Linked DNA regions of Homo sapiens. The protein of the gene in region 2 interacts with the protein of the main gene of each other region in a pairwise test. Each region holds a gene or a part of one and is shown on either strand. Other genes may lie near its edges. The genes, in order: TRPV2 and FGF1.

The links.
Region 1: the proteins of FGF1 (region 2) and TRPV2 interact in a protein complementation assay, tested with the Homo sapiens proteins (one study listed by IntAct).

Annotation. Positions count from the first base shown.
Region 1 is NC_000017.11:16,423,221-16,434,256, reverse strand, and holds part of TRPV2 (transient receptor potential cation channel subfamily V member 2), read right to left. Parts: intron 10,789-11,036; coding exon 10,490-10,788; intron 8,159-10,489; coding exon 7,988-8,158; intron 7,536-7,987; coding exon 7,380-7,535; coding exon of another isoform or gene 7,368-7,379; exon of another isoform or gene 7,367-7,367; intron 6,809-7,366; coding exon 6,710-6,808; intron 5,941-6,709; coding exon 5,870-5,940; intron 5,441-5,869; coding exon 5,275-5,440; intron 5,058-5,274; coding exon of another isoform or gene 4,998-5,057; exon of another isoform or gene 3,938-4,997; intron 2,474-3,937; coding exon 2,407-2,473; intron 2,292-2,406; coding exon 1,957-2,291; intron 684-1,956; coding exon 559-683; intron 1-558. UniProt on the Homo sapiens protein: Calcium-permeable, non-selective cation channel with an outward rectification. Seems to be regulated, at least in part, by IGF1, PDGF and neuropeptide head activator. May transduce physical stimuli in mast cells.
Region 2 is NC_000005.10:142,610,369-142,621,404, forward strand, and holds part of FGF1 (fibroblast growth factor 1 isoform 1 precursor), read right to left. Parts: intron 10,967-11,036; exon of another isoform or gene 10,929-10,966; intron 3,794-10,928; 5' UTR 3,760-3,793; coding exon 3,591-3,759; intron 1-3,590. UniProt on the Homo sapiens protein: Plays an important role in the regulation of cell survival, cell division, angiogenesis, cell differentiation and cell migration. Functions as a potent mitogen in vitro. Acts as a ligand for FGFR1 and integrins.

The DNA.
Region 1 (11,036 bases), on a different chromosome or scaffold from region 2:
GACCTCGTGATTTGCCCGCCTCGGCCTCCCAAAGTGCTGGGATTACAGGCATGAGCCACTGCACCCGGCCGACAGTGTCTGTTTTTAGCTGTGTGTTTGTCACTAGGTTCCCTCTCCCAGTGTCCCAGCCTTTCCTGGACACAGAAGGGCATGTTCTCCATGGAAGGGGTTGTAGCTCAGAGATCAGGCTGGCAGAATTGGGGGTGGGGGGACACAGAGCAGCCAGGGCAATGCTAGAGTGCTAGCAACCCAAGGGTCCCTCTGACTTCTTGGCCTCCTTACCGTAACACATTTCAGGCTACAAGGAGGAGTCTGAGATCACCAGGAGGGGACCTTCAGTTTAAGCCACTGGGACAGGCAGATGGCCAGTCATGTGGCAGCCATGGCTTGTGAGATCCAGACCCCTGACCTCACCTGCTCAGGCTCAGTCCCTGGTGCTCTTTGGGCCTGCCCTTCCCACCAGACCTGGCTCCTGGCAGCTGTGCCCTGCACTGCAGGGGGGCCCCAGGGATTGCTGGACAGCAAGGCCCCCAGGAGACCCTCCCACCACTCACTCACCTGAAGCACCAGCGCTCATCGGGGCTGCCATCTGGCTTAGTGCCAACGGTCAGCATCACACCTGCCCGCTGCTTCTTCCTGCACCACCAATAGCCATTCTCCATCTCCAGGACAGAGATGGCTTTCTGGGGACAAAGGATGCATCAGACAGAACGTCCTGGGACCCTGCCTGGGGGCAAAGGCACACAAGGCAAGCGGAGCAGGGAAGTGCCGCGCAGCACTTCACAGTATAACGCGAAGTCAACTAAACACGCGGATTCGAATCTGGCTCCAACATCCGGTTACCTGTGTGGGGTTGGGCCCTCAGCCTCTCTGCATCTCAGTTTCCCCATTTGTAGACTGAGGACAAAGTGCCTCAGACAGCTGATGGGAAGTCTGTACCTTATGAGTACTGGACAGCTACTTGCTCTTACATCGTTCCAGGCTCCAGATTGCCACACCACCAGGAACAGAACTTCATTTGCTCACCCCACACATGTGCCTGCCCAGAGGCACACCAGTGAGTCAGGTGGGGCACAGAACCTTGCAGAGGAGGGCACCAAGGCTCAGAGGAGATAAGGGGCTTCCCCAAGATCAACAATGAATTGGCAGCAGGGTGGGGCATGGTGGCTCATGCCTGTAATGCCAGCACTTTGGGAGGCCGAGGCAGGTGTATCACCTGAGGTCAGGAGTTCAAGACCAGCTTGACCAACATGGTGAAACCTTATCTCTACTAAATACAAAAAATTAGTGGGGTGTGGTGGCACATGCCTGTAATCCTAGGTACTTGGGAGGCTGAGGCAGGAGAATCGCTTGAACCCAGGAGACAAAGGTGGCAGTGAGCCAAGATTGCACCATTGCACTCCAGCCCGGGCAACAAGAGCAAAACTCTTGACTCAAAAAAAAAAAAAAAAGAAACACTGGACAGCAATGATGATAAGAGTAGCTGGTAGCACATTGAGCACCTGCTTGGTGCTGGGCACTGTCCTAAGTACATCTATGAGCTTAAAGGAGGTGGGAGTAATCTCAGCACTTTGGGAGGCAAAGGTGGGAGGATCACCTGAGGCCGGGGCAACATAGTGAGACCTTCTTCTCTACAAAAAATAAAAATATTAGCCAAGTGTGGTGGCAGGTGCCTGTAACCCCAGCTACTCAGGAGGCTGAGGAAGGAGGATCACTTGAGCTCAGGAGGCCGAGGCTGCATTGAGCTGTGATCGTGCCACTGCACTCCAGCCTGGGTGACAGAGCAAGACCTTGTCTCCAGAAAAAAAAAAAAAAAAGGAAGAGGAAGACTGACAAGGTAGAGCTGCCCAACCCGGCATCTCCTGGCTAGGGAAGGCCCAGCTCCGCAGGGTCCGGAGCACTCCCCACCGCCTGAGTGTGGGGTGGGGTGGGGGCAGGGAGCCTCTCTGGTGGCACCTGCAGCTTCCAGATGCTCCAGCTGTCAGTGGCGACACTGTTGACGGTCTCGCTCATGAGGGCGATGAGCATGTTGAGCAGCAGGATGTAGGTGAGCAGCACGTAGGCCAGCAGCAGCAGCAGCACCATGCCGCGGAAGTGCAGCTGCTCCTGGAAGGCCAGCTCGCCCATGCCGATGGTGAATTTGAAGAGCTCCAAGGAGGCTTCCAGGATACCCCTGTACTGGGCCCCGTTGCCCTCGTCCTCCTGTCCCTCCATGGGCTGCACTGACTCTGTGGCATTGGGGCCTGTAGGAGCTTCGGGGCGCCAAGCCTCCTGGCTCAGGCTCACCAGGGCTATGGGATGAAGGGAGAGGGGTCCTTAGCCCAGGAGACCGGTGGGCAGCCTTGGGAGTGTACAGGGTGGACAAGGAACGTGGGGAAGGGGGAGGGGGCCGGAGGGAGCCTTTACCTACAGCGAAGCCGAAAAGGAAGACTAAGTAGATCAGAAGGAAGCGCAGCAGGTCCCGCAGGATGACCTGGAACACATGTGCCCAGGGGCCAGGGTGGGTAGCTGGGCCACCAGTCACGACCCCAGAACCCTGCCTCACCCACAGCAGCATGGTTCCCGTGTACACTGCACATACGCACACATACATATGCATATGTGGGCCTGTGGAGCCACACCGAGCAGAGGAGTCTTTTAAAAATATATCTCAGATCTGGCTGGGTGCGGTGGCTCATGCCTATAATCCTAGCACTTTGGGAGGCTGAGGCGGGCAGATTACCTGAGGTTGGGAGTTCAAGACCAGCCTGGCCAACATGGTGAAACCGCGTTTCTACTAAAAATACAAAAAATTAGCCAGGTGCAGTGGTGTGCCTGTGCTTGTAATCCCAGCTACTCAGGAGGCTGAGGCAGGAGAATCACTTGAACCCAGGAGGCAGAGGTTGTGGTGAGCCGAGATCACACCACTGCACTCCAGCCTGGGCTACAGAGTGAGACTTCGTCTCAAAAAAAAAAAAAAAAAAAATATGTATATATATATATATATATATATATATATATGTCTCAGATCACATTGTTTTCCTGCTTAAAACTTTCCAGTAGCTGGGCATGGTGGCACAAGCCTACAGTGCCAGCTACTCAGGAGGCTGAGACAGGAGGATTGCTTGAGCCCAGAATGTCAAGGCGGCAATGAGCTATGATCGTGTCACCGCACTCCAGCCTGGGTGACTGAATGAGTCCCATCTCAAAAAACAAAAAACAAAAAACAAAAAAAAAAAACCTTCCAGGGTCACAAAATAAAATATAGAACTACTGTATGACCCAGCAATTCCACTTCTGGGTATGTATATGCCCAAAAGAATTGAAAGCAGGGACTCTAACAGATACTTTTACACCCTTGTTCGTAGCAGCATTATTCACAATGGTCAAAAGGTGGAAGCAACAGGTGACTGGATCGACAGATGAATGGACGCACAAAATGTGGTGTATCTACACAATGGGATATTATTCAGCCTTACAAAGGAAGGAATTGGCTGGGCGTGATGGCTCAGCCTGCAATCCCAGCACTTTGGGAAGCCAAGGTGGGTGGATCACCTGAGGTCAGGAGTTCAAGACCATCCTGGCCAACGTGGCAAAACTCCGTCTCTACTAAAAATAAAAAAAATTTGCCGGATGTGGTGACACATGCCTGTAGTCCCAGCTACTCGGGAGGCTGAGGCAGGAGAATCGCTTGAACCTGGGTGGCGGAGGTTGCAGTGAGCCAAGATTGCATCACTGCACTCCAGCCTGGGCAACAGAGCAAGACTCCATCTCAAAAAAAAAAAAAAAAGGAAGGCATTTCTGACACATGCTACAACATGGCTGATCCTTGAGGACATTATACTGAGTAAAATAAGCCAGACATTAAAGGACAAATACTGTATGATTCCACTTCTACGATGTAGCTATGGTCATCAAATTCGTAGAAACAGAAATTAGAATGGTGGCTTCCAGGGACTGGGGGAAGGGAATGGGGAGTTGTTTAATGGGTGTTGAGTTTCAGTTTGGGATGACAAGAAAGTTCTGGAGTTGGATGGTGGTGATGGTTATACAACAGTGTGAATGTACTTAATGACACTTAGCTGTATACTTTAAAAAAAAAAGGTTAAAATGGGCCAGGCGCAGTAGCTCATGCCTGTAATCCCAGCACTTTGGGAGGCCAAGGCAGGCGGATCACCTGAGGTCAGGAGTTTGAGACCAGCCTGGCCAACGTGGTGAAAACCTGTCTCTACTAAAAATACAAAAATTAGCCGGGCATGGTGGTGGGTGCCTGCAACCCCAGCCATACGGGAGGCTGAGGCAGGAGAATCGCTTGAACCCAGGAGTAGGGGTTTGCAGTGAGCTGAGATGGTGCCATTGCACTCTAGCCTAGGTAACAAGAGTGAGACTCCATCTCAAAGAAAAAAAAAAAAGTTCCATGTTAGGTGTATTTTACTACAATTAAAAAAAAAAAAGCCTCTGGGGACCTCCAAATCCCTCCCCGTGGAAGGGGCCCCTGGCCCTTCCCTTCCTCCCAACCTCCTCACCTCCACCCTCCTGCCATCTCCCCAGCCACCTAGCCTCCTCACCCTGTCCCAAGCACCCCAAGCTCCTTCTGGCTCGTGGCAGCCACTGCTGTGCCCTCTGCTGAGAATATCTCCTCTTCACCCTGCTGTGGCTGAATCATTCTTTCAGGTCTCAACTTAAACATCCCCTCTTTAGAGAGGCTTCCCAGACCATCCCATCTAAAGGGTACTTGGTCCCAGCCATTCTGCATCACATTGTCCTGTGCTTTTTTTTCCTTCATAGAATTTAGCAGTGTGGAATGTTCTCAGTTGTTTTCTTAAGGTTTTCATTTCCTCCCACCAGAACATCAGCTTCAGGGGAGCAAGGACTTGTTCTGTTCTCTGCTATATTCCCAACACCTAGAACAGGGCCCGGCCCACAGTAGGCACTCCCTAAACATGCGCTGAATACATAAATGAATGCAGTTACATGCCCGCGCCCACACATCGCAGGACACAGACATGCAGATGAGCTTATGCACATATTCTTTGCTCCTTGCTTGTGGAAGGATGCACATGCTCCCGTGTGGACACCTGCAAACACACATATGTACGTTTGTTTGCGTGTGCATGCAGAGCCCTGAGAGAGGTATGTGCAGGCCTGTACTTAAGCTTCCATCCAGCAAGCATCTGAGTGCTGGCGCACAGGCAGATGTACACATGCCCTCCTCTGCCTAGGATAGCTGTGGAGGAAGGCTCTTCTTGCCTGATGAGGCCAAAAGAGTCCCGGTGGGCCACCCCCTTCTCTCACCTTCTGGATCATGACACTGTAGATGCCTGTGTGCTGGAAGCCACGTGTATAGTAAAGCAGGTTCAGCCAGCCCAGCACCAGCGCAGACACAAGCAGGGGCAGGTACCACTCGATGGCCAGGAAACACAGCACCTGGGACACCACTGTGAGCAGGGCCTGGAACAGGCTGTGTGGGAGCAGAATCCAGGTGGGCTTGCGGGCCACTTGGCTCCCTGAGCCCCCACTGGCCTATGCTGACCAAGGTCCTGACCTCCATCTTAGGCAAGACATTTAACCTCTGTGGGCCTCAGTTCCCTCCCACTGTAAAATGGGCATAATAATAATGATGCCTGACTCATAGAGTGTTTTCAAGGACTAAGTGAAACAGGTATGTGCCGAGGCCTAGTAAATGTCACTATCACCATCTACAGTGATGGGAGCACAAGGGGCCCCAGGCTGGACGGCAGCCCAGACTCCTGGGACTGGCCTGTACACAGATCCCGACTTCCTGGGCCCCGTGTCCTCGCCTCTAAAGCCAACCTGGTGCCTTCTGCCACAACTGCCCCTTCCAGACCTCAGAGACAGTTGAGAGAAGGAGGAGTGAGAACCCACGTACAAGAGGATTTCAAAGTAGCTGTCTATGAACGAGATCCAGATGAACACGTGGCGCCGCCAGAAGTACCACAGCTGCGGAGGAAGGGAGGACAGAGGGCTGTGAAACCTGCTCTCCCGCATGCCCCCTGCTGGCCTGGCTGAGTGGGAGCCTGCCACCCAGGCTAGAGCTAAGTCAGCAGCTTTGGTTTTGGGGGACTCATGAATACTTCTGATAGCTGAGATAGCTTGGGACTTTCTTTCCAGAAAGAGCAGCCACCTAGGCAAGGCCGGGGGGTGCAGGTGAAGAGCCTGTGCACTGCATGCAGGAAGGGGAAGAGCACCTTTCCCTTCCCTTCTCCCTGGCCTCACAGGGAGCACCCATACCCCAGCCAACCTGCGTTTGGTGCCCAAGTTCTGCCCACTCTGCGGAGGTCCCAATGTCTTGGTGTCCAGCCTGTGTCCTGCAGGCTTACAGCATTTCCCACTGAAGAGGCCCTACTGGGGGAAATAGCCTGAACCCCACCTACCTCTGGTCTCTGTGCTCCCCAAGAGGGGAGCTTCCCAGCCGAGGGGCCTGGCTAGGGGCAGGCGCTTCCAGCTCCATTCCTGGGGGAGCAGAGTCTGTACTGCCAAGGAATCAGAGAAGCTATCTGCTACCCCAAGGAACCCCAAAAGCACAGCAGAGGGGTTCCTGGGGACTCAGAAGGCAAGGCCAGAACCTCTGGCCCTCAGCTTCAGTGAGGCTGGTTGCTCTGGGTGGGACTGGGTATTGTCAGTGAGGGGATGCAGCTAACTTTCTCTAAGCCCCCTGAAGCAGAATTCTAGGTTTGCTTCTTGGTAGGAGAAGGGGAGGGGCACTCACCTGGCCCACGAGGAGGTAGATCCCCCCTAGCAGGATAAGGATGTGGCCCGTCAGCAGCATGGAGTTTCCAACCTCCGCTTTCAGGTGAGGGGCGGCCTGCTGAAGACACACTCAGATGAGACCTAGGGCCTTGGGTCCTCTCTCGAACAGCTCACCCTTCAGAGCTGAAGCTGAGGGCCTACTCTGAGCCTGAGCTGTGGAGAGGCTCCTCAGAACGGCATGGGAACATGGGCTCCAGGGAAGGACCCCTGGATCCTGAGAGGCACATTGTGTAGCATTTCAGTGTAGGGTCTGAAGCCAGACTCCCTGGATTCAGATTCCCTCTCCACACCACTTCCATTCTGTGTGACCCTGGGCAAGTTACTTAACCTCTCTGTGCCTCCCTTCCCTCTACTATAAACTGGGGGTGATTATAATTCACCATCTCAAGGGTTTTGGGGCACATTAATTAGTCAACACATGTCCATCACCTAGAATCCTTTTTCACATACAGTGAGCACTCAGCAAATCTTCACTGTATCACCGTTAGTACTGCAGTGCTGGCTCCCATAAGCTTGGGAATGTCACTCCAGCAGCCCATGCCTCAGCACTATTACTGCCCCATCTTCCCCCAGGGTTGTTTCAAGCAGGCCTCCCCCAAGATGTGCCCCCCCAAACCTCACGCCCTTGCCTTCTTCAGGGTAGGCTGATGGTAGGCAACAGCGGTGAAGATGAACATGTAGATCAGATTACACAGGAAGTTTAAGAAGAACTTGGGGATGAGCAGATCCCATTTCGCCTGCAGCAGTTTGTTCAGGGGCTCCAAAACGACCATTCGGTGTCGGTGCTGGGGTGGGGAGGGGAGAGCCATGGGTACACTCAACAAGTGCAAATAGGCTGCCCACTCCATGTCAAGATCAAAGCAAGGGCCCAGGAAATGAGGAGAGAGGACAGGGAGCAGGCTTCCACACCCCAGGAGCCCCAAAGGACCTCACGCCAACCCTCCCAGCTACAGTGTGACTAAGGGGCTTGCCCTCCAAATGAGATGCTGGTTAACAGAGAGGACCCGGATGGTTGCCACGAGGCCCTTGGCATGATCCCCGTCTTGGATGGGACTAGAGTATGGATTGAGTATGGGCCCGGTGGCCATGGTCAGGGTCGTGCCTGCTGGGACATGCAGCCACACCCCCACTGGCACAGGAATGGGGCAGATATGGTCCAGCAGGCAGCCCCAATTTGTGGACCTTGCTGGAAACTCTGCTGGGTCCTCTGCGTGCACCCATGCTCCTGTGGGCTCACCGGGCTCTTGCAATGAAAGGCAATGATCTCCAGCACTGAGTTCTCCTCACAGCTGTCCACAGAAGCCAGGTCATACAGCGACACCCGGACAGGCCCATAGCACCACTCGGTGAACTTTCGGGAAAGGTGGCTCAGTCCTGAAAACTCCCGCTGCAGGATGTGCCTGAAAATCTGCAGGGTGGCCATATGAGCTTGCATTCATGGTCCCTTCCTGGCACTGATCCTGGGCCAAGGCTGGGAAACACCCAGGACTCAGCAGCTGCCCACGGTCTGCAGAGCTGCAGCTGACACGTGCACGTACCCCCATACACGCAGGTCCTTGTTTGTCTAAACTCTTAAACACACACACGCACCCAGCCACATCTGCCCCAGCCTGCCAGCCAGCCTGGCTCTTCCTTCCCCTCCCCTGCCCTGTGGCCTTCCTTGAACTCCTCAAATGGCAGATTGATCCCTAGCCCTGGGGTCCTTGAGGCCCCTGAGATCAGAGTCTACTAGCTGTATCTGTGTGTGCACTTTCGCGGTCAGAATCTAGAATTTTCAACAGACTAGAAAGTGGTCCCTAATCCAAACAGGTTAGGAAGCAGTCTGGTTTCACGCGTGAGGAATGGGAAAGGAGGAACAGATCAGGACACTGCTTTCATAGGCCACACAGCAGTGCCTCTAGACAAGAAAGTGAGGTTCACACACCCCAGGGAGCACTCCAAAAAACTTGGGAGGGCAGCGAAAAAGGGTTAAAACTTCTATTTATGTTTATCGTTTCCTTAATCTTTCAAAAATCTCCACTGTAAGCCCATGAGGCCAGCCCTGGTGAGCTATTGGCAAAAGCTATTTGGAACAGGCCATTGGTAAGCTATCTGGAACAAAGTGGGGGCTGCCTCATGTTTACTCTTCCTACCAGAATAACTTCCAGCTAGTCAAAGCTCTAGGCATTAAAAATGCAGCTGCAGGCTGGGCGTTTCGGCTCATGCCTGTAATCTCAGCACTTTGGGAGGCTGAGGCAGGTGGATCACCAGAGGTCGGGAGTTTGAGACCAGCCTGACCAACATGGAGAAACCCCGTCTCTACTAAAAATACAAAATTAGCCGGGCGTGGTGGCACATGCCTGTAATCCCAGCTACTCGGGAGGCTGAGGCAAGAGAATCGCTTGAACTCCGGAGGCGGAGGTTGCAGTTAGCCGAGATCGCGCCATTGTACTCCAGCCTGGGCAACAAGAGCGAAACTCCATCTCAAAAAAAAAAAAAAAAAAATGCAGCTGCAAAAGTTTGGAAGAAAATATGGGTATGAAGATTATATATATACTATATATAATTATAATGTATAATATAATGTATAATAGTTATAACATATATTATGTACATATAATATGTATTATATATATAAAATCTTGTAGCAGGAATTAGACAATAGCAAAACCATGGAACCTTAAAGGAAAAGATAGTCACACTTGCAGATTATAAAAATTTTTAAATCCTGTATAGCAAAAAAAACATAAAATTCAAAAGACAAATGATGAACTAGGAGAAATTTTACAAGTGCTATGGTAGACAAAATACTAAATTCATTATAAAGTTATCAATAAATATGCAGAAACAGAATAGCAAAATAGGCAAAAGATATAAAAAGGCTATCTCTTAATAAAGAAACACAAACGACTTTTAAAAATTCCCAATGTTTGGCCGGGTGCCATGGCTCACACCTGTAATCCCAGCACTTTGGGAGGCCGAGGTGGGCAGATCACCTGAGGTCAGGAGTTCAAGACCAGCCTGGCCAACATGGTGAAACCCCATCTCTACTAAAAATACAAAAAATTAGCTGGGTGCAGTGGCGCGTGCCTGTAATCCCAGCACTTTGGGAGGCCGAAGCGGGTGGATCACGAGGTCAGGAGTTCAAGACCAGCCTGACCAACATGGTGAAACCCCTCTTTACTGAAAATACAAAAAAAAAATTAGCCAGGCATGGTGGTGGGTGCCTGTAATCCCAGCTACTCAGGGGGCTGAGGCAGGAGAATTGCTTGAACCTGGGAGGCAGAGGTTGCAGTGAGCCGAGATCATGTCACTGCACTCCAGCCTGGGTGACAGAGCGAGGGTCCGTCTCAAAAAAAAAAAAAACAAAATTAGCTGGGTGTGGTGGCACATGCCTGTAATCCCAGCTACTTGGGAGGCTGAGGCAGGAGAATCGCTTGAACCTGGGAAGCAGAGGTTGCGGTGAGCCGAGGTCGCACCATTGCACTCCAGCCTGGGCAACAAGAGCGAAACACCGTCTCAAAAAAAAAAAATCTCAATGTTTTATAATGTAATATATTCAGTAGTTCATATGCAATTTATAAATAAACAGAAATATATCAGAGGTACATACTGAAAATTTTCTTACTAACAGGAGTGTTCCATTGAAAAGCAGAGAAGCCACTGCTCTTCACCACCCCCTGGGTTCTTTCTGCAGAAATTTTGGGATGAGACCTACTGCTTCCTGGAGAGGGGAAGTGGGAAGGGGACAGCCGCTCACCTCGATCTTGCCCTCCTTGGCGGCCAGCTTCAGAGGCGTGAGATCCTGCAGGTTGCGGATGTCCTCAAGCTGCACGGTAGGGCAGAGGCGGGCCCCAGCTTGGAGGAGCCCATCATACATGCTGGTCACCAGTGCAATGTTCTCAGCTGAGTTGTCCGAGATCATCACTAGGGCATGCAGGACTGTGTTGCCCTGGGAGTCAGTGGCCTGCAGGCTGGCGGGCTGGTGTGGGTTCTCCAGGAGGTAGCTTACCACATCCCACTGCTTGGTGCAAGCGGCCAAAGAGAGGGGTAGCTCACCTGCAGGCCAAGAGAGCAGCTTGGGCCCCAGGCCTCCTGCTTTCCATCTGCCTACTCCTCATGCTCCTTGGACAAAAGGCCAGCCCTCCTTGAAACAGGTCAGGCTTCTTTACCACTGAAGGGAGCAGAACAGGGGCCAGCCAACCTGCTGCCTTTTGCTGTCTTCTTTGCCAGAGCCCAGGCATGCTGCCTCTTTATTCAGGCTCTGCCTGGCCAAGTCACATGCCAGTGCTAGCAGCCCCTATTTC
Region 2 (11,036 bases):
GTCCAGTAGGAGGGAAAACCATTAAATAATCGCACAAATAAATGGAGAATTATAACCCTGAGGACAGCTGCATGGTACGTGAGACACTCCTCAATGCTTGTGTCCAAAATGGAACTGGCCATCTTCCCCTGGACCTGATCTTCTTCCAGGACCTCCCCCTCTCATGGTGACACCACTTATGTGTCCCCCTGAGCTGAAGCTTAGGGGACAACATGAACCTTCTCACAAACTGTGCCCATCAGCCCTGGAATCTATGCAGCACTCCCTGGCTGATTCTGCCTGGCCTTCCTAGCATGGCAGCGTAACCAATGTTCACAGTCCATATTGGTAATTGCCTGCAGCAGCGATCTAAGGAATGGAAATGGGACAAACCAAAACCACCTTCTCTGCAGGCTAGAAGTCCACCAGTAGAGACATTTTACTCAGGTCTCTATTAGAACAGCCCACACACAAGCATCTGCCCTAGGGTTATACCACTATAAGGAAGGTTAGGTACTTGGAAACTCATTCTCCTAGAGGTAGGAAGAAGATACATTTGCCCAGGAATGATCAATGACTTGGGGACAAAGAGAAGCCGTGAAAGGAGTTATTTCTGCCTTGTAGAGCTCAAAGGCATACGGTTCTATCTTGTGTGATTTGTTTAAATTTTTCGATTGGCTTTTAGAAACGCTCTTTCTGAAGGAAGTCTTAACGTGTGACTCTGTCACTTCAGTCTCTAATTATGCTCAAACTAGTGATCAAGGAATCAAAAATATCTCCTTGCCAGGCCGTGTGGATCACATTTAGTCAGGGAGCATCCGTCTCATGCCTGGCCGAGGCAATTCTGTTTCTGAATAACCCTTGAAACTCAGAAGGGCTCTGGCAGTACCACCACTGGGCAGAAGAGGGCAACAGAACCACATTCAGGGAGTACATCCGTGCCCAGGACTCCTCTCACCTGCAGAACCCTAGTAAATAGAAGTTTCGCCCTTGTGAGGCACACTGGGCAATGCTGCCATTCCCATTCCACAGGTGAGGAAACTGAGTCTCAGCGAGACTAAATGATTTTCCTGAAAATTATCTGGGAACACTAGAGACACTTCAATTTCTAGTCAGGAAAGGACTGGAAGCGTCCCAGGGCTGGGGGGCTTGAAGCTTCTTTCGCAGAGTTTGCAAACAGAAAGAATGCATAATGGCAAGAACGTTAATTGTCCAGGGCTGCTCCAGGTAGAAAGGGGCAGAGTAGGCTTGAACTCGAGCCTGCTGACTCTTCAGTGGAATATCCAGTTCCAGTACTGACAGGTACACGGATGGGCTTCTGGCCACCCACCCCACTTACTCTGATCTCTGTCCTCTTGGTCCTTGTTCTTAGTTCCAGAGTAAGCAAATAATAGGCCCACACAACAACTCCGAGTGTTGGCAGAGAGATGCTGAATCTAAGCCTGCATCTAGCCCCTTGACTTTCCTGGGTGGCAGTACTGTTAAAAAGAGGAGTCTGGAAGGTCCTTCAATACGACCCTGTGTTACCATATGCTAGGCTGATTATATGGAAAGCTTGATGATGATAACTGCAATATGAACCAACACGTGCTGTGCTGTTCCTCTGTGCCAGCCACTGTGCCAAGAACTCTCACTATATTATCTCATTTAACCCTCCCAAGAAACCTGTGAGGCAAGGAATATTAGTATTCTTTTTGTACAAATGAGAAAAGTGAGGGTGAAAGGTGCAGTTGCCCAAGTTCACTTGGAAAATAATCTGGCATTCCTTGAATGCAGAAATCCTCACCTGCACTCCCAGGGCTACGTTGTGCTGCTTTCTAGGGGCTCCTGACATCTTAAGTCAGGCGGCCAAATCCACTGTGGACTCCAGAAGTTGTGCCAGTGTTACACACCCAGAGTGCAGTCTGTTGTGCTAATGATGGAATGGCAACAGTTAAGCCATTTTCCATTGCTACAGAAATTCCAGTATTGGAGCCTTTTTTTACTCCAGAAGTCAAGGTTTCCAGAAGAGCTAGCTTAACCCCAAGGAACATATCATGAAGTTTGTCTTTCCTCTTGGGTTCTGAGGACCGGAGAGCATTCCCTACTTTTTCAGAAAATTGGTTAAGACGTATTAGGAACACTTAAAACCCAGAGGAATTAAAGCTTGTTCGTGTTGTGTGGGGCAGATCACGTGAGTTGTGTATCATGCCTGACACAATGGACTACAATCTAAGTTTGCTAATTTGCAGTGAATATTGCTTATGTATGCTATTTAACAAACTAGAGTCTTTTTTTTTTGCCTCATTCTGACACCTGTTTTTCACTGAGTATAAGACATTCAGCAAGCCCATTTGAAGATAAGCCATCAAAACAAAGCCCAAAAGAGCTAATTCTGCAGCTGCAAGCCCCAGCCTCAGCCTTCCTGCTCCTCATCTCCAGGGTCTGTGCAGTGGGTGGGGAGGAAGGAACAACGTCACCTCGTGTAAACGCCAGCATCCATCCCCATTACCTGTGCATCTGAGGGTACAGCGTGAGCACCAGCGAAGTGGTCATTTGTTCTTAGAGCCTGCAACCTCTGGTGCATGGTCCATGAATAATTAAGACCACCTGATGTATAAACCATCATGTCAAAGTGAGTGTTTTGCATTGCATTTTGAAGCCAGTCCTACAGAAACTTCCTTCCTGCCTGTCTTCTTCTATGTCTCCTGATTTTCCTTCTCTTGATTTGTGGCAAGTTTGACTCTTGAGATTGCTGACCCTCTAAGCAGGGACTGGATCTGACTTTAGGCTTCTTTGTAACCTCTGATGCTGCAGTGGGACTCAGGGAATCTCAGATAACATCACGATAGGACCTGGACACCTAATATCAAACATACACACCAATGCCAGAAGTACCAAAGCAGAAGGAAGAGATTTTTTTATACTTAGATAGTCAAGAAGATTCTTTTCTCTAGAGTCATACCTTCATTTGTCAACACCTCTGAGAACCGGGCTGCCAGGAAGTCCTGGAAGAGATATTCAGCATTTGGCGCTAGTCGCTCCTACTCTCCAGTTTCTATAAGGTCTGGAGAATGACTTTACCACTGCTGGTTACCACAGCCACATCTGCGTGATACGCAGAGGGAAAGCTGCATAATTTATGATGTGTAAGACTACGATTATGAACTGGGATTTCACAAATCAAGCCCAGTGGAAACATAACCAGGAGAGTCAGTTGACTTGAAACGGAGCCCACATCTCTGTGCAGGATTTACCACCATGCCTGTCTGGTTCATCCCATCATGAAGCGTGCAGGCCCCTGACTAGCCTTCGGGGCCAGATCTTTCACTAGTTACAGAAACCTGGGAAAACATACAGCAATTGAGCACCGGCAGCCCGTTCTGTTGGGTCAGCAGAGAGTGCTTTAAAAAACTTGAAATAGGACACGTTTGGGTAAGTGGTGGCCCCCACAAGTCCCTATTTTCTAAACCCAGACATTTTACGCATTTATGTGACTCCACCTCTGAATGTGTCATGCCTGAATAGAACCTTGGAGAAGCAAGTACCTGTACTTAAATGTGCACCTTCCTCCCACCTTGACTACAGAAGATGTCAGAAAGGGAAGGGGGGTGCCATAGAGATGGGCTTACTGTGCTGGTCGCTCCTGTCCCTTGTCCCATCCACTGTGCCATCCGGAAGGATCCTCAGGAAGTGGCCCCCGTTGCTACAGTAGAGGAGTTTGGGCTTCTTGTAATTCCCTGGAGGCAGATTAAACTTCTCGGTCAGGGCTGTGAAGGTGGTGATTTCCCCTTCAGCCATGGCTCAGCAGCTGCTGCTTGTGGCGCTTTCAAGACTGTAAGAAATTGAACAAACCTGTAGTCGGTTCTTCCAGCAAAGGCACAAAATGCACTTTGAAGAGAGGAAGGACAGCTCCAGGGCACAGGGTTCCCGGGTAGTGAGTAAGCACAGCCTGCCCAGGTGATGCCCGCAGTCCGCGGGCCTGTGAGGTGGCTGGTGGTTAAGGAAGGATGGTCCCAGGCCTGGGAGGGGTTTCCAGGGCATTTTTCTCTCTTCCCAATTGGACACAGCTTTGGACCAAACTGCATTTTTTAGAACTTCAAATTTAATCATCTGACCATGGGGAAAAGAATCATGTTTTGGTCCCTCCTTCTGGTCCACACACATCCTCAAATTAAACACCAAAGTTGCACTAAAATAACACCTAGGGTCTGGCTGAAACCCACAAAAGCTGAGAGGCCAGGACCAAGGTTCTGCCCTCCACCCTCACGTTGCGTTGGTGAGGTACCGCGAAGCAGATAGCACAGATGGCCTGGACGTTCGGGACCTGCAGCCAAAGGCACAGGAGGCCTTTCAGGGACACAACAGGGAAAGTAAAGGGTTAGTATGTTAAGGGAAGCTTCTGGATTTGCTGGGGGAAACAGAACTGGAACCAGGGAAAAAGGCACAGAGTGGGAGTAAGTGGGGTTTTTAAAGGGCAAATACCATATCAAAGGAAATGTTATGAGACAGATCATTATGAAGGCTATGCCTGGTTCCTGCCCATTCTGCAGCTTTCCACATAGCTTCATGTGGCACAGAGAAGGTGGGTCTGTCCCTTGCACGCAGGCTGTTTTCATCCTAGCTATTTTCTAATGTGAGATAGAACACAGAAACCACCATATTATATATAATATACCTTTAACATTATATGTAGCCACTACATACAAACTTATATTATTAATGTGAAAATGCATCACTTACACCTCAAAGGATTAAAAAACAAAACCAATGAGCATTAGAATTGGTTAAAACATATACTTGCCCCACCATTTAGGAGAAGGAAGTGCTGGTGACTCTAAAAACTGAAAAGAAAGAGGCCAAAAAGAGACCAGGAAACTAACGTGTGAACTGCACTTTTTTTTTTTTCTCCTGAGACGGAGTCTCTGTAGCCCAGGATGGAGTGCAGTAGCACGATCTCAGCTCACTGCAACCTTGGCCTCCCGGGTCCCAGTTCAAGCAATTCTCCTGCCTTAGCCTCCCAAGTAGCTGAGATTACAGGAATGCGCCACCACACCAGGCTAATTTTTATATTTTTAGTAGAGATGGGGTTTCACCATGTTGGCCAGGCTGGTCTTGAACTCATGACCTCGTGATCCGCCTGCCTCGGCCTCCCAAAGTGCTGGGATTACAGGCGTAAGCCACCGCGCCCGGCCTGGGAGCTGTACTTTGTAAGTGTGAGTAGTGAATGTGATCATCAATACATATTGATTATCAAGTGGTCTTAGAATAAAAATCATCACCCTCATCATTAACGTATTTTGGGCTACAGGTTATCTCAAGTAATCTCACCATAATCCCTTGAAGTGGACACTAATATTATCATCATTTTTAATAAAACCAAAGCTTACAGATGTTCAGTGACCTGCCCAAGGGCAACAGCTAGTAAGCGATGGAGCTGAATCGCAAAAGGAGTCTGGGAACAGAAAGCCCCAATTTGCCCTTGATCACCATGAAAAGGTTTAGTGACTTTATCCACACTAGTCTTTTTATGAGGAGTGGGGTTTTTACCCATTGCCTGACATGTACATCTGCCACCATTAACTTGTCATTCATATATTTATTTGTGACCCAAAGGTTGGCTAGTCTCCACCAACAGCCTCTCCTTTTGCCCCCATGCCATCTGTGAAACAGGACTCCATGCATCTCCACCTTCTCCAGGAGAAGCCCACCCCAGCAGCTTCGTGAGCATCATGGAAGACCAGCAGCTACCCTGCCTTCCCTGCACTAACCATCCATCAGTGCCTGTAGCAGCTGTGCGGAGCTGCTCTCATAGGAGATGGTTCCATCATAAATCAAGACACCAATTACAATAATTTGTCCTTATGACTTTAAAATGAGGGCTCATGTTGGAAGCCTCCATCTGTTTTCTCTGCTCCTGGCATTTTAATGTTTCTGGTACATTTTTCCCACTCTGCCACCACATGGGCCAGCCATTGTCCCTGGTTTCAACTAGTGTTGGAGGTGCCTCCAAGAATCCCAAAGAGAATTTCGCAAATACCATATAAACTATATTTAAAGTCAGATCATCCCAAATGTCCCCTCCATCCCATATGGTGAAACTTCGATTAATTCTTTTCACATAATACAGCAACAGACAGAAAATAAATATAATACCACATATATGTAATTTTATTTATGTCAATTTCACAGAGAGGATTGCAGAGTTTACCTTGCATAGTACAATCTCTCTCCATCCTCACTGTCTCTTCCAAACCTTACTTTCTTATCCATAAGCCTCTAAGTCCTTCTGTGTCCACCTCTGGCTCTCTTACTCTCTGTCCCTCTGTCTCTTCCTGTCTCTCCACTCACTCCTCTCTCCACCCAGCCTCTCACTCTAACTCCTCACTCCACTCCCTTCTGGATCCACTTCTAATGTAAAGCAATTTAGCTCTTCCCAGTGTGGATATCTTTATCCCTCACCTCTCTATTAGCACTCAACCATCACCAGATTCCCCTTCCTTAAAATACAACTAAGAGGTAATGATTTTTTTCTTTCATTTATTTTTTCCAAGCACTTCCTAAGTTATGTACTTCATTTGGTACAGGAGACAATAATTATATACCAGTGGTTGCCACTTAACTGCACAAATAGTCATTTGTATTGTCAATCTTAGGTGGGCCGAATTTTGTTTCTCCTTGTCTCTGGACTTCCTCCAGTGTAGGTCCCATTTGCCTCTGATTGTGGGGCAATTTCATTTTAAGAATGGCCTTTCAGGCCAGGTGTGGTGGCTCATGCCTGCAATCCTAGCACTTTGGGAGGCCGAGGTGGGTGGATCACCTGAGGTCAAGCGTTCAAGACCAGTCTGGCCAACATGGCAAAAACCCATCTCTACTAAAAATACAAAAATTAGCCAGGTCTGGTGGTGCATGCCTGTAGTCCCAGCTACTCGGGAGGCTGAGGCAGGAGAATGGCATGAACCTGGGAGACGACAGTTGCAGTGAGCCAAGATTGCGCCGTTGCACCCCAGCCTGGGCGACAGAGCGAGACTCTGTCTCAAAAAAAAAAAGAATGGCTTTTCTTCTAGATTCTAGACCATGTGTGTATGAGCCATGCAGCCCAGACTTCATCACTGTGGAGTTTTCACTGGCTAAATAACCTCAGCCAGAGCCCAGCAGGTCCTCAGGGGCCCCTCCCTCCTGACCACAGTGTACCTGCAGTCATACAAGGCCACAACTCTGCTCTCTGCCTGATCCCCTCAGTGAGAGGGAGCATCATGAGGGTGCCTATACTGATGTCAGATGGCTCCCCAAACCCTTCAGATCCACAACTGAAAACCTGAAGGAGACATGTAGGCTTCTGAAAATAAGCCTGGAGTCAACATGAAACTGACAGACCATGGTAACTGAGATTGATGACTCAGCTGAAACATATAAAAAATGAAATCCCTTTTTGTTGCTAAAGGAAACCCCAGGGGCATGAAAAGCCCTTATTTTAAACTTTATTTGTAATTTACCTATAGTTTGAGCGGTAGTTGGTCCAAAGTTCCTTGCCAATCCACTATTTGTTAAAGGGTAGAAATAAAGGAAGTATATGGCGTGATAAAACCATAAGGCAGCAACGTTAGCAGGTCCTTGGAGATTTACACAAATTGCTTTAATAAATGAATCCATTAACTAAGTGAAATCAGGCATTAAGTGTAAGGAAATTTATAAGCTCTGCTTCTTGTTACTATTTTCTTTTTAGTGGCTGTCAGAGGAGGGGATTGTCTGTGTTGTGCTGGGAAATGGAGAAGATCAAGCCCAGCGAACTCCGTGTCACCATTGTGCACGAAGCCTAGCCCTTTGAGATTTGGGGTACGGGTGAGATTTTAGGAAATCCAGATGATTTTTTTGATTTATCAGTGACACCCAGGTTAGAGGAACACCAAGCCTATTGGAACATCTGTGTTAAGGCTGACATACTTTGTCAGCTGTGGCCTCTGGAAGGGAACCTGAACTCTGACACATGAACAGGATGTGGATAGTAAGCAACCACTTTGGCTCTGGGAACCCGGGCGAGTCATTCACTCCTTCTGAGATGTTTCCTCTAATAATTCTCATCCTGCCTCTCACACAGTTGTCTAAAGGATTAAATGGGTACAATATTGATACAGCGCTTGAAAAATTGGACCTGACCTATAGGAGATAATAGTAACTGGTTATGTTGAACTCGTTGGAGCCTGGTGTGATCTAAGTCAGCTGTGATTAAATGCTTAATTTAAAATAATTTTTTAATTGGTTTGAAAATAGAAGTTTTTCATTCCCATATTTGGCAGAAATTAGCTAAGCTCCTCCCCCTGTGCTGTAAGCCACAAACATAGCAGAGAAGATGAAAGGCACAAAGGTAAGCCATGGTTATGTAAGAAAAAATCCTGGTCTGCATTTCAGACTCAGTTCTCAGCTTATCAACAGTTAATATAGTGACAGTTACTATATAGTTATTACAGTTATTTGCGAGGCCCATTATATCTAGGAGACATTTGTGCCCAGCTTGGCCCTGGAAACTAAGCTGGAAGGAAAGACTGTGATGTGTTAAGAATCAAAGGAAGGCAAACACTGACATTTATTTTTTAGTTGTTTTGTTTTTTTTTTTTTTTTTTTTTTTGAGACGGAGTCCCGCTCTTTAGCCCAGGCCGGATTGCAGTGGCACAATCTCGGCTCACTGCAAGCTCCGCCTCCCAGGTTCACGCCATTCTCCTGCCTCAGCCTCCTGAGTAGCTGGGACTACAGGCGCCTGCCACCGCGCCCGGCTAATTTTTTGTATTTTTAGTAGAGACGGGGTTTCACCGTGTTAGCCAAGATGGTCTCGATCTCCTGACCTCGTGATCCACCCGCCTCAGCCTCCCAAAGTGCTGGGATTACAGGCGTGAGCCACCACGCCCAGCCTTTAGTTTTGTTTTTAATCCCTGTCACTGTGTAAGCAATGTGGAATACCCATGAAGGAGGATATTTTGCAGAGTATATAAAGCCACTGAAGGTAGATGTGTAGACAGACACCTGCTAAGGTGATAATTGGATGTATCCTCAAACCCAGCATATACAAAACAGGCCTTGGCTTTGGTTCCAAATATGCTCTAAGTCCTTGCTGCCTGTGGCTATGAATGGCATCACCCAAAATCTTAATTCTTCCTTAGAGATATTAACTAAATTTTGTTAAGTCAAATATACATGTTAAATGTTAAAGGTAACTACTAAAAGAAAAGAAATAGAATGTATTTAGTCCAAGCGGCAACTGGTAGGCGTAAGGGGGATAAGGTGGAATAAATAAAACTGTGCTTATCTTCGTGACCAGCCTGACGAACATGGAGAAACCCCGTCTCTACTAAAAATACAAAATTAGCCGGGCATGGTGGCGCATGCCTGTAATCCCAGCTACTCAGGAGGCTGAGGCAGGAGAATCGCTTGAACCCGGGAGGCGGAGGTTGTGATGAGCTGAGATTGTGGCATTGCACTCCAGCCTGAGCAACAACAGCGAAACTCCGTCTCAAGAAAAACCAAAAAACGAAAAAAAAACAAAACCCTGTGCTATTCCAAAATAATCTAGAAAAAGAAAAAAAGAAAATAAAGTAAAAAAATTGCTCAGAATTAGGTGGCCAAAATAAATCCAAATATATGTATAATCACAATAAATGTAAATGTGCTAAATTTACTAGCTACTGTTTTTTTTTTAACTCCATCTGCACTCTGATTACAAGAGACACATTTAAAACATAATGACATAGAGAGGTTAAAAGCAAAAGAATGAAAAATAGATACCAGACAAATGTTAACAAAAAAATTGAAAACTCGGCTGGGCGCGGTGGCTCACGCCTGTAATCCCACCACTTTGGGAGGCCGAGGTGGGCGGATCACGAGGTAAGGAGATCGAGACCATCCTGGCTAACACAGTGAAACCCTGTCTCTACTAAAAATACAAAAAAATTAGCTGGGCATGGTGGTGGGCGCCTGTAGTCCCAGCTGCTGGGGAGGCTGAGGGAGGAAAATGGTGTGAACCCAGGAGGCGGAGCTTGCAGTGAGCTGAGATCGCGCCACTGCACTCCAGCCTGGGTGACAGAGCAAGACTCCGTCTCAAAAAAAAAAATTGAAAACTCGTGTGGCTATATTAATATCAGATAAAGTAGGTCTAAGGCAAAAAGAATGACTAAAGATAAAAGGGATTGCCACATAATAAGTGGATTAATTCAACAGAAAGATATACAAATTCCAAACATGTATATATCTAATGACATAGCCTCAAAATACATAAAACAAAAATTGACAAATATGTAAAGAGAAAGTGACAACTCCGCAATTATGGTGGGAGATTTTATAATACATTTCTGTCATAAATGATAGAGCAAACAGACACCAAATATTAATATGTAGAAGATTGAAATACACAACTAGTAAACTTAATTGATGAGTGTATAAAAGAACCTTGTACCCAACAATGAAGTGAACATCATTCTTATCAAAGATACATGGAGCATTTACGAAAATTGACCATGTACCAGGTCATAAGGCAAGACAACCCAAATAGAAAAATTTGTTTCATTCAGACTATTCTTTGGGCAGAATAGAAATCACTCCCACCTGTTCAGTTGGTGAAAATGCCCTTTCAGTTTTACCTTTTTAGTGTCTCCTAAAGCCATCCTCTTTTCTCCAGCCTCACTTCTGTTGCCTTAGCACAGACCCAGCACCTGTCTCACCTGGGCTGCTGCAGCAGGTCCCACCTTTCCAGCACTGCCTTCTTTCAATCCACTGTCAATTCTGCTGCTAGTGACCATTCTAACTCATCACTCCCCTGCTGTAGATCTTTGACTGGGTCATTGATTTCCCGTTGTCTTTCCAGATAAAACCCAGACTCCTGCCATGACCTGTGAGGCTCTCATCATTTGACCCCTTCTTAACCCTGTGACTTTTTCTCTTATTGGCCTCTTTTTATAGTCCCCCTACACCCTCATACTCACCCAGGTCTTAGCCCAAACATTGTGCTGCTGCCAACAGTATTTTTTCTCTCTCTCTTTTTCTCTTTCTCTTTCTCCCTCCCTCCCTTCCTCCCTCCTTCCCTCCTTTCC